Linked DNA regions of Homo sapiens: region 2 is linked to region 1. The links come from fine-mapping of genetic effects on gene expression. Tissue or cell type: tibial nerve. Region 1 holds a variant in brackets; the other region holds the start of a gene. All regions are shown on one strand. Distances are from middle to middle.

The links. PIP is the estimated chance that this variant, and not a neighbour inherited with it, causes the effect.
Region 2: CTNNA2 starts here. The variant in region 1 is fine-mapped to the expression of CTNNA2 in tibial nerve (GTEx, PIP above 0.99).

The regions. Positions count from the first base shown.
Region 1 is chr2:79,102,901-79,105,668 of GRCh38, forward strand. No RefSeq gene overlaps it. Among named protein-coding and RNA genes, the nearest start is that of REG1A, 16 kb to the right of the region's middle. The variant C/T (reference allele first, on the strand shown) is at 1,396.
Region 2 is chr2:79,511,979-79,514,746 of GRCh38, forward strand. It overlaps CTNNA2 (catenin alpha 2), which reads left to right and starts at 1,073. Exons shown (of 19, transcript NM_001282597.3): 1 at 1,073-1,229.

The DNA of each region.
Region 1 (2,768 bases):
CAGGTTCATAGGTGTTTGTTATGTTAATCCAACTTATTTCTGCATTTAGTAAAAATATTTATGCTATCTTACAAGCTTATAGCCAGGTTAAGATATCTTTTTTCTTATAAATAAGAAAGTCAATCATATTCTTCAGACTTCATAAAAGATACAGTAGGTAGGAGTCCAGTATACTTGGTACCATAATAAGTGTATCTTGCAAAAAAAATGAACAAGTAATTAATAGTTTAAAATTAAAAAAATTCTTTGTGGCATAATTTTTTTAAATATGAGAGTTCTTATTTACTTCAAGAAGACTTAAAGCAAGCAAAAACATTCCAGATATAAAAGATCTAATACTTTAAAATACATAATGAAATACACTGTAACTGGCATGATATAAAACAGAGAGAGATTCAGTTCAATACTGTATCAACAATTGACACAGTATTCCCATAAAAATCTTTATTGCTACCAGTATCTGGAAACACATTGAGATGTTATTAACTTTATTGCTTGCACATGTGACTGGCCAAATTCCGCGTGCAAGCTAATAAAACTGATACCTTTACCTGGCAGCTACTTTGTTCCAAAGTGATGCCTTTTGCATATAAACTGTATTTCCTATCTGTTCAAGGTTTATCTCATTGTCCTCCAGAAAACAAGGCCCTTCCTGTGACATAGTTTTACAAGATTCCAAGAAGCTCATTTCAGGTCTTTCCCATCATATTCCCTCCAGCAGTCTTCTTGTATATGGAAAGCAGTCTCCTGGAAATCTAGTGTTAATATGTCCTTAAGTGGGGAAACTTTCTGATAAGCCTCCAATAACGCCAAGAAAATTCCAAGGCTATGGCTGATTCTAGGTGCTGTTTGCCATTTTCCAAGAGGTATTCTCTGCTTTCCACCTTTGGAATTGAGATTTTAGACATATGAGAGAGAGATAATCTCCCACTTGTTTAAATCCTTGGCAGGCATGTAAATAATAGCCTGTCTGCAAACTTTAGACTGGAAAAGAAAGGAGCTGAACAAATAACAAATGCAGCAAGGACATTCCATGGTCTGCTGTGTTCTGCAGGTGTAAGGAAACCTACTTATAAGTTAGCCTATTCTGCTTCACAAGAAACCTCTGATTTTTAAACATTAATTTTTGTCACATGCTGTCTATGCCAGGCACAATTCTAAATGCTTGCCTAATTAGAAACCATTTAATCCCCATGAAAACCTAATAATGTAGGTGCTGCTACGAACCATATTTGACACATAAAAAAAATGAAGGCAAGAGAAAGGCTAGGTAACTCCTGCAAGATTAAAACAGCTGCTAACACAGGAATAGAAAACCAAATATTGCATGATCTCACTTAAAAGTGTGAGCCAAACATCAAGTACATATGGACACAAAGAAAGGAACAACAGACA[C/T]AGGGCCTACTTGAAGATAGAAGGTGGAAGGAAAGTAAGGATTGAAAATCTACCTATCAGATACTATGCATATTACCTGGGTGATGAAACAATCCATACATCAAACTCCTGCAACACACAATTTGCCTGTATAACAAACGTGCACATGTACCCCTGAACCGAAAATAAAATTTTAAAAAACCAAACAGCTACTATGTGTTGGCACTAGATTCAGACATGCAGTTTAGCTCCAGGGCCATTCCCTGAGTTCCCAAAATACTGATTTTCCTCTACTTATTTCCACATGCAACTCATCCAGCTATCTGGATTCTGAATGATTTCAACACATAACCACCCATTGATTATGGTCAAGGACAGAGGCTCCACAAGAAGAGCTTAAAAAGTGAATAAATGTAAGACATCACCCAATTCTTAACCTGCAATTTAATTTGTCTTTTACACACACACTAGCACCACAAACCCGTGTGTGTGTGTGTGTGTGTGTGTGCACGCGTGTGTGTGCTCCTGAAAGGAGGAATTGTTCTTTAGAATCCTCATGGCCTGGTCACCACATAAAAGTCCCACCTCTTAACATTGTTCCAATGGCAATTAAATTTCAACATGAACTTTGGAGAAGACAAACATTCAAACTGCAGCATTCTAGCTGCCTAAAAATCATGTATTTCTCAGGTACAAAATGTTTCATTTCATCCCAAAAGCCCCAAAAGTCTTAGCTCATTATAGTATCCTCTTAAAAGTCTAAGGTCCAGATTATCATCTAAATATAATCAAAATCAGATACGTGTGAAAGTCAAGTATGATTCATTCTGAGGCACATGTTTCTCCAGCTGTGAAATCAAGTAAGTTATGTACTTCCACAATATAGTGATGGGACAGGCACAGGATGGACAGCCTCATTCCAAAAGAGAGAAATGGAAAATAAAAATAAATAATAAGTCTGTAATAAGTCTGTAATAAGCCCAATTCCCACCAAAGCAAATAACATTAAATCTTGAGGTTTGAGAATAATCGTCTTTGGCTCCAAGTCAAACCTTCTCTACATATTGGGGTGAGGGTTGGGCCCCCATGATTTTGCTGGATGCATCCCAGGAAGTAGCTATCAGAGGTTAGAGTCTCTTTTATGCAGCCCTCTACAGGTGGCATCTCACACTGCTGGATCTACAGTTAGGGTTTTGAAGAAAACCCACTCCCCAAAGTTCTACTAGTAATTGCCCTAGTGGACAAACTCTGTGGTGACCCTGTCCTTGTGTCAATTATTTGAGCCCCGAGTCTCTCTGAGGCATCTTTTGAAATCTATAATAGGCAAGGCTACAAAATTAGCAACCAGTGGGCACTGCCAAGATTTACATCCTGCACCTTCTGGAATGGTGGAT
Region 2 (2,768 bases), 410 kb after region 1:
TGTTTCTCTCTCTTGATTTAAAACAAAACAAAATTGTCATTTGGCACTGTGGCAGAACAAAGATGACTGTAACTTATATTTCTCATCTGATGTAGCTGTGTACCTTTTTCACTGTTAGCACCTCTGTAACAGTTACATTCCAGCAACATCGAGTCCCAGCTGCCGATGGCTGGCGGCGCAAACACTCCCTGCCCTAGCTATGTAAGTTCCCCAACTACAGTATAACCTCTCAGAGGACGAACATTTTTGGATATCTCAAAATGCCTAAGTACAGTGTCTGGTACAAACTAGGAGCCAAGTAATATCCACTGAATCAAGAAAAGAATCACAATGCCTTCCACGGAGAAAATATTCAACAAAGGCTTGTTAAATGAGCAAATATTCCAGTTGTTTTAACAATTCCATCCTCTTCTAGGTTCTTTTAAAGTCCAAATCTCCCTTCCTCTCCCCTCGGGACTCCACATCCCAACAAACCTCCCTTCCGCGGCAGTCACTACCTTTGCAGCACTCTGGCCCTGCCCTCCTCCTGCCACGTGTCGGACCCCTGCTGGGCTGGCCCTCCTTTCCTACTCTGCGACACCCCTATCCCCCCCGCCCCTATCCTGCCCGCTCCCGCACCCGGTCCCTCTCCCCGGGCCTCGCGACTCCGGCGATTCAGCTCCGGGTCCCCGCCCGCAGGGTAACGCGGTTGTCATGGACACGGCACCTGCGCCCTACGGCGGTGCCCCTTCGCCGCCGTCCCCTCCCCCCACCTGCGGCGCCGAGCCTGCCGCGCCTCCAGAGCTCCGCCCTACCCCGCCCCGCCCTTTCGGGCGCTCCCCAGGCCGCGCGCGCCCGCGGCCCCCCACCCAGCCACCCCTCGATGCCCGGTGCCTTTCCAGGCGCCGCGGAGCCACGGGGACCGCGGGGGCGCGCGAGCGAGCAAGCGGCCGCGCATGCGCACTGGCTGCCTCCCCTAGCGGCGATCCGGGCCGCTGCCGCTCGCGCTTGGGCAGGACGCGGGGCGGGCGGGGGGAGGGGGGAGCGGCTTCGCTTCCAGCCCCGAGTGAGGCGGAGACCCAGGCGGGCGGGCAGAGCAGGCGGCACCGCACCTCGGCCAGAGGCGGCTGCAGCAGCTGCTGCCCTTGTCCCTGCCGCCGCCTCTCCAGTCCCTTCTGTGATTACCACTCCAGCTGCTGGGAACGGGCGAGAAAGAGGAGGAGGCGAGAAACTCCCACCGACCCACAGAGGTGAGTCCCGGGCAGAGCATCCTCCATCCCTGCCTGCCTCCCTCCCTCCCCACCTCCCTCCCATCCTCTCCATCCTCCCCCCTCCCCGCTCCCCAACCCTCCCTCCCTCATCCTTCCCAACATCCCTCTCTCCTCTCCCCTCCTTTCTCCCTTCCAGCCTTTCTTTCATCCCTTTCTTCCTCTCTCCCAGCCCCACTTCCTTCCCACCCTTTCTTTCTTCCCCGTCTTCCTTGCAGCCACTCGCCCTAGAGCACAGCTCTGCATCCCTTTCCTCTTGTCTCCATCTCTTCTTCCCCCCTTTCTTACCTCTTCCCCGGTGGGAGGGTGGGAGCATCCCTTGCCTGCTACAACTGTCCGGATTCAGGGGTTCCAGAAAATTGGGTGCATATACTGAGAGACACACTCTTAAACAGCGGGTGCCCTGCAGATTCCTAAATTTTTAGGATGAAGGGTCAAGTTGGGTAGAGTACTGGGAACTGGAGGGAGAAGAGGATCGAAGAAGAATCTGTGGATTTGTGCTATATTAGGGTGGGGGTGGGGAGGGTTGTCACTTGGACATGCTGCCAACAGCCCCCATACCCCTCTTCAGCAGTTTCTTTTTTTCTTCTGGGAATTACATATTTCCAGTGTGTGTCTCACCAATTTAAAATCCAGCCTTCCCTGCTTTGATTGTCTCCGTGAGAAACCACAACGAAAAAGGAGAAGAGAGGAAAGGAACAAGAGAGAAAAAGGGGAGGGGAGAGGAAGGGAGGTGGCAGTGGAAGCTTGTGTTCTTTTCCCCTAGGCCTCTTTGGTTTGACATTTTCAAACCACCCGCCTCATATTTGGCTTGGAATTGAACCCGTGTGTCCTTGGTCCTGTCACTACCTACTTCAAAGGCAGAAACTCTCTAAACTTTAATGCCTGTGCACCACAGCATTATTTATGGAATGTTTTGCTCAGCATACAAAATACCAAGATAGAAAGGTTTGGGAAAATAGGGAGCAGAAGGGTGGAAGAGAGGTACTTTTGTTCATCATGGGTTAACTTCTCAAGTAGGATAATGGTTAGACAGTTTTGGAGAAATGAGGTTATACTCCACAGGCTTGTAAATATACCATTTAGATGGCATTAGCTGCATTAGAGCCTTTAACAGACACCCTTACCCATTTTCACCCACCTCGTAGGACCCCTGAAGATGTTTAAAGAGAAACATGCTGTGTGATTCTGTTTGTGGCTTACACCAATGGAAAAGTTGAATTAGCTTCGGAACCATTGTTAATAATTTAAAATTGCTGTTGGTTTTACATCACTTATTTTCACAGAATGCTATAATTTACCTTGCTCTCTTCAGCTTGCATTCTAACCCCTTACATTATACATGTTATTGGCAATTTGACAATTCTTTCTGTTAGCATTGCTGCTGTAAAGTTTATTTTTACATGGCGGGACAGCCATGCCTCAGAATGTTTAGCATATTTATCATCTCAGAAGGGTCCAACAGTGTAAGTATAAATCAAAAATGGATATTTTGAAGCCTATATTTTGTTCTATTTATAT